3 linked regions of the Homo sapiens genome follow. The protein of the gene in region 1 interacts with the protein of each later gene in a biochemical or structural test. Each region holds a gene or a part of one and is shown on either strand. Other genes may lie near its edges. The genes, in order: TES, VASP and ZYX.

Evidence for each region.
Region 2: the proteins of TES (region 1) and VASP form a complex in vitro, tested with the Homo sapiens proteins (one study listed by BioGRID).
Region 3: the proteins of TES (region 1) and ZYX form a complex in vitro, tested with the Homo sapiens proteins (one study listed by BioGRID).

Annotation. Positions count from the first base shown.
Region 1 is NC_000007.14:116,251,981-116,255,630, reverse strand, and holds part of TES (testin), read right to left. Parts: intron 3,314-3,650; coding exon 3,155-3,313; intron 514-3,154; exon of another isoform or gene 1-513. UniProt on the Homo sapiens protein: Scaffold protein that may play a role in cell adhesion, cell spreading and in the reorganization of the actin cytoskeleton. Plays a role in the regulation of cell proliferation. May act as a tumor suppressor. Inhibits tumor cell growth.
Region 2 is NC_000019.10:45,510,408-45,514,057, reverse strand, and holds part of VASP (vasodilator-stimulated phosphoprotein), read right to left. Parts: intron 1-3,650. UniProt on the Homo sapiens protein: Ena/VASP proteins are actin-associated proteins involved in a range of processes dependent on cytoskeleton remodeling and cell polarity such as axon guidance, lamellipodial and filopodial dynamics, platelet activation and cell migration.
Region 3 is NC_000007.14:143,384,341-143,387,990, reverse strand, and holds part of ZYX (zyxin), read right to left. Parts: exon of another isoform or gene 2,606-3,650; intron 1-2,605. UniProt on the Homo sapiens protein: Adhesion plaque protein. Binds alpha-actinin and the CRP protein. Important for targeting TES and ENA/VASP family members to focal adhesions and for the formation of actin-rich structures.

The sequences.
Region 1 (3,650 bases):
AAAACACACATTTTCAGTTGCAATTTACAAAAAAGAGATAACTAATGTTCAATTACACATGAAATTAAGAAAATTAAGCAAAAAGATAATTAGTACACATAAATGGTATAGAGAATTAAAGTCTGGGGTTTCATAAAATTTCATTTTACTAATAATTTGATTACCATTCATTCAAAATCTGACATGTAATCACAGGTCGAATCTACTGTTCCCTAATTCCTCAAAAATCTAAAATTGGCCCAGGCTGCGCCAAGGGCCTGGGGACTGCAGAACCCTTCAGGGAGATGATGTGCTTCACCACTTCCTGCCTGCCATTTGATCTTCCCATGTTCCTAAACCTTTAATATTTCAAAGAATTCTTATTTCCTTCAATCCCTCTTCTTATTTGTACACAGGATGTAAAAGAGCTAATGACACCTGTTGTAATGAGCTCTCTGCAGGAGTGTCCTATGAATCTGACGGATGTGAATTCTGGGGGTAACTATGGAGTTCTAGTGACTACACAGAGACAAAGTAGGTGCATCTGCCATGTTTTTTCCTTCCAGGTACTTTTTTTTTTTTTTCTCAGAAATGTTGTTTGGAGTTGAGCACTTGATTTCAGGTCTAAAAATAATTTGTATTTTCTCTCTTTAAGATGAAAAGATCTAAGCAGATCAATGCCCTGAACTAGATAACCTTCTCCAAATTTTATATAATGTAGCATGCTGTGTGGGTAGCTCTCTTTGCTGTTAGCTGGAATCTGTTCTGGCAATGGATATGTATGCTCATTTTAATATTAGGCAAAGGCCAATGGTATATCCCACTGAGAAAGTAAACATAAAAGAAATGATGCTACACACACACACACACACACACACACACACACACACACATATATATATATTTTTTTTGAGACGGAGTGTCGCACTATCAATCACCTGGGCTTGGGGTGCAGTGGCAGGATCTCGGCTCATTGCAACCTCCACCTCCCAGGTTCAAGCAATTCTCCTGCCTCAGCCTCCCAAGTAGCTGGAATTACAGGCACCTGCCACCACGCCCAGCTAATTTTTTTGTATTTTTAATAGAGACGGGGTTTCACCATGTTGGCCAGGCTGGTCTCGAACTCCTGACCTCATGATTCGCCCACCTTGGCCTCCCAAAGTGCTGGGATTACAGGCGTGAGCCACCATGCCTGGCCAAAATGATGCTATGCTATAAAACTAAATAATTTGAAAATTCTTTTATTTAAACAAATCATATCTGTGGTTATACCCTGCCATTGATTAGAAACAATGTAATACAGAGAAGCTTGTAACAGCTAAAAAAAGAAAAAAAAGCAGTTTCATCTGTTTCAATAAATTTTTATTGAGCACCTATGTTGTCCTAGTGTTGGGAACAGAATAGAAAAGGCAGATAAAAAAATCCCTGCCCTGATGGAGTTACATTCTAGTCCTTGAGACTAAAGGTCAGACAGCAGCAAAAAAAAAGGTATACATTATAATACCTTTAGTCTGTAGAAAAACTGTTGCAACAATATTCATTGAAGCAGTTTTTAGCTAAATAATGTATCAGGTTACATGGTGATTTGACGTCTTGTTCCCTAGGTAAAGGAATGACCATGGTAACCCCAAAGCGAGAAATATTAAGAACACGAGTCAGTCACTCAAACATTTTCTAAGTGCTGACACTGAAGATATAGAAAGCAAGATATAAGGCAAGCTCTACCCTCCAGCTGCTTACAGTCTAGTGAAGGAGACAGATGAATGATATTCACACACACACACACCCCCACACACCCACCCACACACACACCATTGGGAACATGGAGAGTCTGGAGGAAATGGTGGAGTTTGGGCATAGTGAATCAGGAAAGGTGTTCCGAAAAAAAGTTAAACCTAAACTGAATCTAAAGGAATAAATGTGTAGGTACAGTCAGGTAAAACAGGGAAAAGTACGGTGTATTAGAAAAACTATTAGGAGTAAGCAAAAGACAACAGTGTGTAAACTAGAAAATGATGGTGAACGTGTGGAAATGTATGATTTGCGTTGGATAACTAGTAGAAGGGACAGGAGAGGCAAGAAGGGGCCAGATCTATCAAAAGTTTAATAATTTGCATTTTAGGAAGATAATTTTCCATCATTATGGTGGGTAGCTTTTGAGCAAGATGAATGAAAGTGGAGGAACGAAATTTGAGGCCACTGCAATAGTCAAAATAACAACAAAAAAAAAGGTCTAAAGTAGAATGGTTGTAATTATAAGAATGTGAAATATATTGGTGAGGCACAGTTGATAGAGAATGAATAACTGTATCTGGGGCAATGGGTGAACGCTGAAAATTGGCATTGACATAAAAACTTGTTACCTTATCTTCACAGTACCACACTCTTATAACTATATATAACTATATAAACCATATGTAATTTCATTCCTTAGCCAGGAGTCCCTTTTACTTGATAGCTCAGGGGACCATTAACACATATGTGTTTTGCTGCATATAAAGAAGTAAATGTCTATTTGGATACTCCTGGATTATACACTTTACCATCTATGGTCAACTTTTTACCCTTTATCTACATTACCATCACTTGGCCATTATACAACAGCAGCTCTGTGTAAGCAGAGTAAATGCAAGAAAAAATATACTTTCACATTGGAATGTTTGGCCCACACAAAAATCTAAATACGCAGGCCAAGTTTTGTTATGCTAAATCAATTCAATGAGGGTTTAAGAAATAGGTATCTTACAATCTCCAGGTAGCAAAAACAAAATTCCAGTGGGTGGTCCAATAACACAAACAGAAAGCATCATATTCAAATAGAGCTAAAGAATATCAATAGCCCCTAGACACCTTTATTGAAATGGAATCTGATTGCTAACCATGAAAATAAAACAATCTCATTCCCATTAAGAATTTTTTTAAGTGAGGATTTTATTATTAAGCAGTACCTATAATTGATATTGTAAATTTCACAAGTAGAAATCTTGAGGTGGCTCATAGTCAATGCATGTATTGTTTTTGAATTGCCTTGATTTTAACACCCTGTGGTAGGAATAATTTGCTTTCTACTTAGGAGGACTGCTTTCTGTTTCCCATTTGTAAGAGGCTTTAAGAAAAGCATAAACTCAAGTCCTAAAGCAGGCTGAGGCAACCATATCCTTAGAACACTTCTCACCACAGCGTGATTCTTCACATAGCAGGGCTTGCACACGGGCTTGTCATTGACCATCACGTATATCTCCCCAGCTAGAATGCTATCACAGTCAAAGCAGCAGAAGTGTTTCAGGTGCCAATTCTGGTTTTCTGCCTGGGTATACTCATTGCTGAATATCAGCTAGGAAGAAGATAAAAATAAAGATGGATTTTTATATAATAAGAGATTTATATCTGTAACAACATACTTTCTCAGGGTCTAAAGTTTGAAAATGATAACCTAAAGCTTGAACTTATGCTATCACTTAGTTTAGTCTAAATCAATCTTTTATATTTCTAGTCTTTCATTTGTCAACCCAATTAACACAGACAGAATGAATGATATCAGAAGTTTATTTTTTAAAACTTCTTTGGATGTAAACAGAGCAACTGCTGTTTGGTCAAGTCTTGTTGCCTTCTAGGTAAAGGGACCATATGAGGGTCTAAGAGGGCACCAGCATGCCGGTGGTCCCATAGAA
Region 2 (3,650 bases), on another chromosome or scaffold:
CTCCTTTTCATCCCCTGCTGCACATTTCATAGCAGTGACCCCTGCCCAACACAATATTTGTCTGTCTCCGCTGCCAAAAAGGCAGAAATTTGTGTCCCAGTTGTTCACTGCTGTGTCCCCAGAACCTAGAATGGCGTCCAACACATAGTAGGGACTCAATAGTTACGAAACATCTGTAAAAAAAGGCAAACTTTGGCCAGGGGAGGTGGCTCACGCCTGTAATCCCAGCACTTTGGGAGGCTGAGGCAGGAGGATCACTTGAGCCCAAGAGTTTGAGATTGGCTTGGGAAGGCTGGGTGTGGTGGCTTATGCCTGTAATCCCAGAACTTTGGGAGGCCAAAGCAGGTGGATCTCTTGAGGTCAAGAGTTCGACACCAGCCTGGCCAACATGGTGAAACCCTATGCCTACTAAAAATACAAAAATTAGCCAGGCATGGTGGCTCATGCCTGTAATCCCAGCTACCCAGGAGGCTGAGGCAGGGGAATCACTGAACCCAGGAGGCAGTTGCAGTGAGCCGATCTCAGACCACTGCACTCCAGTCTGGGAGACAGAGCGAGACTCTGTCTCAAAAAAAAAAAAAAAAAAAAAGGAGAGAGACTAGCTTGGGCAAGATGGTGACCTCCGTCTGTACAAAAAACTTTAAAATTAGCTGGGTGTGGTGGCGCTTGCCTGTAGTCCCAGCTACTCAGGAGGGTGAGGCAGGAGGATCACTTGAGTCCAAGAGGATGAGGCTGCAGTGAGCCTTGTTCAGGTCACTTGCACTCCAGCCTGGGCAACAGAGCAAGACTCCCTCACAGAGCAAGACTCCCTCACAAAAAAAGGCAAACTTTTACCTAGGACACCTAACATTTCTCAGTCAGCCTGGGTCCCAGACACTCTTCTTGGTGCTTGACACCAATTTCCCTGCTGCATGACTCTACAACCTCATGGGATAGGCTCTGACGCTCACCCTTTTGACAAGGGGGAATTGCAGGCACAGAGGAGTGAAGGCACTTGCCCCAGATCACACAGCAAGTAAGCAGAGGGGCTCATAGTTGAAACGAAGTTCCCACAAGTTCTTAACTTCATTTAAAGATGAAGAAGCAGAGCTAAATTGAAATTTTTAAAAGCCAAAGTACAAGGTAGTGTTGATCAGAGGCTTTACAAAACCAAAAAAAAGGTCGGGTGCGGTGGCTCATGCCTGTAATCCCAGCACTTTGGGAGGCCAAGGCAGGCGGATCACAAGGTCAGGAGTTTGAGACCAGTCTGGGCAACATAGCGAAACCCCGTCTCTACTAAAAATACAAAAAATTAGCCAGGCGTGGTGGCGGGCGCCTGTAATCCCAGCTACTTGGGAGGCTGAGGCAGGAGAATCACGTGAACCCAGGAGGCGGAGGTTGCAGTGAGCCAAGATCACGCCACTGCACCCCAGCCTGGGGGACAGAGCAAGACTCCGTCTCAAAAACAAAAACAAACAAACAAAAAAGGTAGGCTAGGCGCAGTGGCTCAAGCCTGTAATCCCAGCACTTTGGGAGGCCGAAGCAGGCGGACCTCTTGATGTCAGGAGTTTGAGACCAGCCTGACCAACATGGTGAAACCCTGTCTCTACTAAAAATAGAAAAATTTGCTGGGCGTGGTGGCGCGTGCCTGTAATTCCAGCTACTCAGGAGGTGAGGCAGGAGAATTGCTTGAACCTGGGAGGTGGAGGTTGCAGTGAGCTGAGATCGCGCCACTGCACTCCAGCCTGGGCGACAGAGCAAGACTCCATCTCAAAAAAAAAAACAGTGAGGAGCATATATAAATATATCTGCACTCAGAGTGGTGATATATGCAGAGACTGTTTCCCAAGACACTAACTGTGGCTGCCTCCATTGAGGGGAACTCAGGAACTGGGGAGGGAAGAAACAAATATTTTGTACCATTTATCTTTTGAGACAGAGTCTCTCACTCTGCACCCAGGCTGGCAGTGGTGTAATCTCAGCTTACTGCAGCCTCCACCTCCCAGGTTCAAGCAATTCTCCTGCCTCAGCCTCCCAGCCTCCACTTCCCGAGTTCAAGCGATTCTCCTGCCTCAGCCTTCTGAGTGTCCGGGATTACAAACGTGTGCCACCACGCCAGGCTAATGTTTCTATTTTCAGTAGAGATGGGGTTTGGGCGTTTGCCACATTGGCCAGGCTGGCCTCAAACTCCTGACCTCAGGTGATCTGCCTGCCTCGACCTCCCAAAGTGCTGGGATTACAGGCATAAGCCACCAGGCCCAGCCACCATTTCAATAATTTCAGTAAGTATTTCAAACTGCTTATTATTTGTTTTCTTATCATGGGTTGAAATTACCTATAAAAACCTAACTCACTACTTAAGTTCAATAAATAAAACTGTAAACTACACAAAAGCCAGAACGAAAATCCCATAGCCATAAAACGGGGGTGCGGGGGCTGTGAGATGGAAAGGAGTTCTGCCCATTTCCAGTGTGTTTTCCCGAAGTCTAGAACCCTCCATTGGACATGAGAACACTTTAATTTTCCAGCCAGCCCAGGACCCACTCCTCCCTGCAAGTCCCCACATTTTGGAAAACTCTAGCACATGGCGGATGAAAAGACGGTTCAAGTTGCCTCCTTGTTGTGTGGCTTTGCCTCTCTGAAACTCAGTTTCCAGCCCTGGAAACAATAACTCACTGGGTTCATTGTAAGGATTAAAAGAGATAATGGACAAAAAGCCCTAAACGCAGGAACTGTAACTTGGTACACGCTCCACATGAAGGAGAGAGCTTCCCATCACCAGAGGTAATCAAGCATGGTGAATCCGGTTTTCACAAAACTTGCAGTCTTACCCTTCCCTTCACTGTCCCCTGAACCCAAGACTTAGCCCATACCCTCCTTATACCATAAAACCTATGATACATATACACCACCCTTCCAAACGACAAATCTTCTTTTGTCGGGGATGGGGCTACTCTAGTCCCTTCCTCCTGGTGGGCCTCAGTTTCCCATAAGTGAATAGGAAGATAAATGTTGCAGCTTCGGTTTCATTTGGCTTATCTGAATTATCTTAAGAGTTTTCACAGTGAAAGCACGTTCCTTTTTTTTTTTCTTTTTCTTCATTAAGAACACGGAAAGCATGTTATCTCTATTTTTTTTTTTTTTTTGAGACAGGGTCTCACTTTGTCACCCAGGCTGGAGTGCAGTGGCAAGAATATGACTCATTGCGGCCTCAACCTCCCCAGCTCAAACGATCCTCTCGCCTCAGCCTCCAGAGTAGCTGGAACTACAGGCGCATGCCACCACACCCAGCTAATTTTTGTATATTTTGTAGAGACGGGGTTACACCATATTGCCCAGGCTGTTCTCAAACTCCTGGGCTCAAGCGATCCTTCTGCCTTGGCCTCCCAAAGTGTTAGGATTACAGGCATGAGCCCCGGCGCCTGGCCCTGTTTGAGTTTAATAGGCACCTTGCCTAACTTTCCTGTGCCTCAGTTTCCCCATCTATAAACTGAGTACCGGGGTGGGGAGGCCACAAGGTTGTAATAGTATCATTGTTCGAACTGCCATGAGGGGCCAGGTGTGGTGGCTGACGTCTGTAATAATAACACTTTAGGAGGTCGAGGCGGGTGGATCACCTGAGGTTAAGAGTTCGAGACCAGCCTGGCCATCACGGTGAAACCCTATCTCTA
Region 3 (3,650 bases), about 27 Mb from region 1:
TCCACCCACTCTGCCCAAACCCCCTGAGCAGTCACAGACAGGCCAGAATGACTGGGCGGACGGAGGCCACGCACACAGCAGCTCGGGTCACTGAAGCACCGGACACTCCAGGGCCACGCATCAACTCCACAGAGCATGCTCGGACATCGCCCCCATGGGACAGGGGCACGCAATGGCGTGCACACACGCGCACACACACCTACCCGGCCTGCCTGCTGCTGAGCAGCCCCTGTCAGCGTGAGGATACAACACAGGCAGGAATTGCAGGTTAAACCCACTGAGCTGTCTGCAAGAACCCAGCCCCACCCCCACACAGAGACCCTGTCCCTCGAGTGAGGGGCCTCTGAACTACCTCACTCAGGTCCCTCCCCAGCAGCCTCAGAGAAGGTCCAAAGGCCACCCCCTAGGCCAGCCCAACCTTCCCATTTAGGGGATCCCGGGGACTGGAGTGGGGGGTGGATGTTAAGGACAGCGCTGCCAGTAACCCTGAGAGGTAACCCTGAGAACTCCGGGAAGGGCTGTCTGACCTGCATCAGCACTGCCGGGAGACACGCCCACAGGAGCAAGTGCACTGGGTGGGTCTTTTCTATGTCTGGAAAAGCCTACCCAGGACTGTGGCCCCATCACTGAGTGTGCTACCTGCAGATGCCTTCATTCCCATAACACCTGGAACCTCCAAAGCCCCCCTGCTACCTCCTCCCATAGCCCCTCTCCCCTCAGCCCTGGCTTCACTGCCCCTCACCCCGACCCCCATCTGTACCCAGAGTTGCGTCCTTTCTGCCCAGTGAAGCATGCGTCCATATAAGTCCAACTCTCCAGATCTTAGCCATTTTCCCTTAAGATCTTAGCCATCTTCCCTTAAGATCCTACCATCTCTTAACTGACTCGTTCCCTGGAACACTCACTTCAACTTTGTCTCCTCCAATCTTCCCTTCCTGGCCTCTTGGGGACACAGTGAAGGGGCTCAGTCAGTCCTTGCTCTCCAGTGCCATTCTAAATGCCTGGCTCCTCCTTCAGAAGCACAGAATCCTCATCTGCATCACCTCCCATGGGTATCCCCATTCATCAGGACACTCTATCCAGAACTGCCCCCTCTGCCAGCCTGCACCAATGCCACCGCTTCAAACCAAACTTCCGTCCATCTCAGTCATCATCCATCATGGGACATCCTTGACCTCAGATTTACCTCCAAGTCTCTTGCCAGCCATTATCTGCCTCTCCTCTTCCCCATCCACACCTACTACATGAACCCAGAAAAGCCTTAGTTGCCCCCACCCGCAACCCACCCCTGGACTTTGTCCACCATGCCCCAGCCTGGTCCCATGACCATCTAACTCCTACAGGGTTCACTGTCCCTCCGGGCACCTGCAGCCACCCGCAGCTATCCGGCCCAGTCTCCAACCCCAAGTCACACCACCACCCTCTTCCTGTTTCTGCTTCCAAGCTGCAGAAAGCAGTGGAGAGATCACTGAACACTGCAGCGTGAGCTCACAACACTGCAGCACCCGCGCGACCTCCAGCCCAGCCTTCCCCACAGCAGCCGTTCCAGACCTCTCCATCTCCTGAGCCCCCACCTGCTTCGTCCCTTTGCTCGCACCGTGACCTCACCTCCCACATGGTTGAGGACATGGAAGCCAGCCAGCTTAAGCTCCCTCATCGTCCTTCCTATCCACGCTGCAACCACTCTGTCCTTGCTGTCTGGTATGCCTCTGGGGGAGGAGACATCACCAAGATCTCCTCCAGGGACCGAAGCAGCCTGCCCCTGCTCTCCCACAACACTCACCCTCCATCACCTGCTTCCCCGGGTTACACACGTACCTGAGCCCTTCTCCCCTAACTTGCAAAAACCACATATGCTACACCACAGACTCAAACACACACACCCTCACACATACCCACATACCACTCACATGCACACACACATACCAGACCACACACATACACCACTCACATACACTCACACATATACCACACCACACACACACACTCACACATATACCATACCACACACACACACACCACTCACATTCAGATAATACCACACCAGGCCAGGCGCGGTGGCTCACACCTGTAATCCCAACACTTTGGGAGGCTGAGGCAGGCAGATCACTTGAGGTCAGGAGTTCGAGACCAGCCTAGCCAACATGGTGAAACCCCATCTCTACTAAAAAATACAAAAATTAGCCAGGTGTGGTGGAACGTGCCTGTAATCCCAGCTACTTGGGAGGCTGAGACAGGAGAATCGTTTGAGCCAGGGGGGCGGAGGTTGTAGTAAGCATGGGCGACAGCCTGCACTCCGTCTCCAAAAAAAAAAAAAAAAAAAAAAAAAAGATATACCACACCACACGCTCACACACACCACTCACATATATACACATACGCCACTTGTGTGTATTTGTAAGAAAGTATGTATGTGCACCTTCACTTGTGCAATCACACACCATACACATCACAGCCACACTCACACATGCACACACCTTCACTCACACATGCACACATGTACTCATATACACATACTTTCACACAATCACACTACACACATCACACGCCACTCATACATTCATGCTCACACATGCACATACACTCACATACACCATACCCACACCCACACACTAACACACACACACACGCCACTCATATATTCACATATGTGTATATATACACACACACACACCACTGACACACAGTCCTTCCCTTAGTCCTTTAAGACCAGGCTACACCAGCAGCCCCACTTCTCACCACCCACTCTCTCCTCAACTCCTCACATTGTGTTCCCACCACAGGGCACAAACAGGCCATCCCAAGACCGCTGATGATTTCCCAACAGTCTAATCTCTAGCCTTGAGTCCTCACTCCCTCAAATACCCCACTGAGGAGCTCAGCTCTCTTCTCCAAGTGCACCCTGACTCTCCTCCTGACTCTTCTTCCCGCACCTCCTGGTCCCCGCTGTCTGCACTCCCTGGGAAGCTCCTCCGCTCCGACCCTGACCCTCCAGCGTCACAGTGTCACTGTGCCCCACTACCATGCTAGACATCTCTGGCCCTCTCCTGAAACCTAGCCCTGGATTTCTAGCTGAATGACGGCCCCAGCTGAAAGTCCTCCTGGGACCTGTTGCTCAAAACGTTGACAGCTGGACCCCTCCTCTTCCCGTCCAAACCATTTCCCCTTCTGGACTTCTCTATTTTGTCAGCAATCCTGCCATCCGCCCACACCCCATCTCCAAATCGTGCTGGAGACTTTTTTTTCCCTCTTCCCCTCACCCTTGTCTTCCAATTGCTCATCCCTTGCTAAGTCCTGGAGGCTGTGCCTTCCCAACAGCTCTAGCACACAGCTCTCACATGCACGGTTTAATTTTCATTGCAGCTAACATTACTATTGCCCAAGAGTGAATTCACACCCATCACTGACCTCCCTCGAATACACATCTCTGCTGGTGAAACTTTCCAGAAAGCTTCCAAAAACACTGCTTTCACCAGCCCTCCTGACCCACCCCACACCTACTCAAAAATCATGAATGCCTCTCCAGTGCTCAAGAGCTCCTTGGGTGAGCCACTTCACCTCCTACACCCTCCAGCCCCGCTTGCCTCTCCAAGTATAGCTCTATCATTTTCCTACAGGAACCTTCCACTTTCTGTTCTCCAAACATCCCT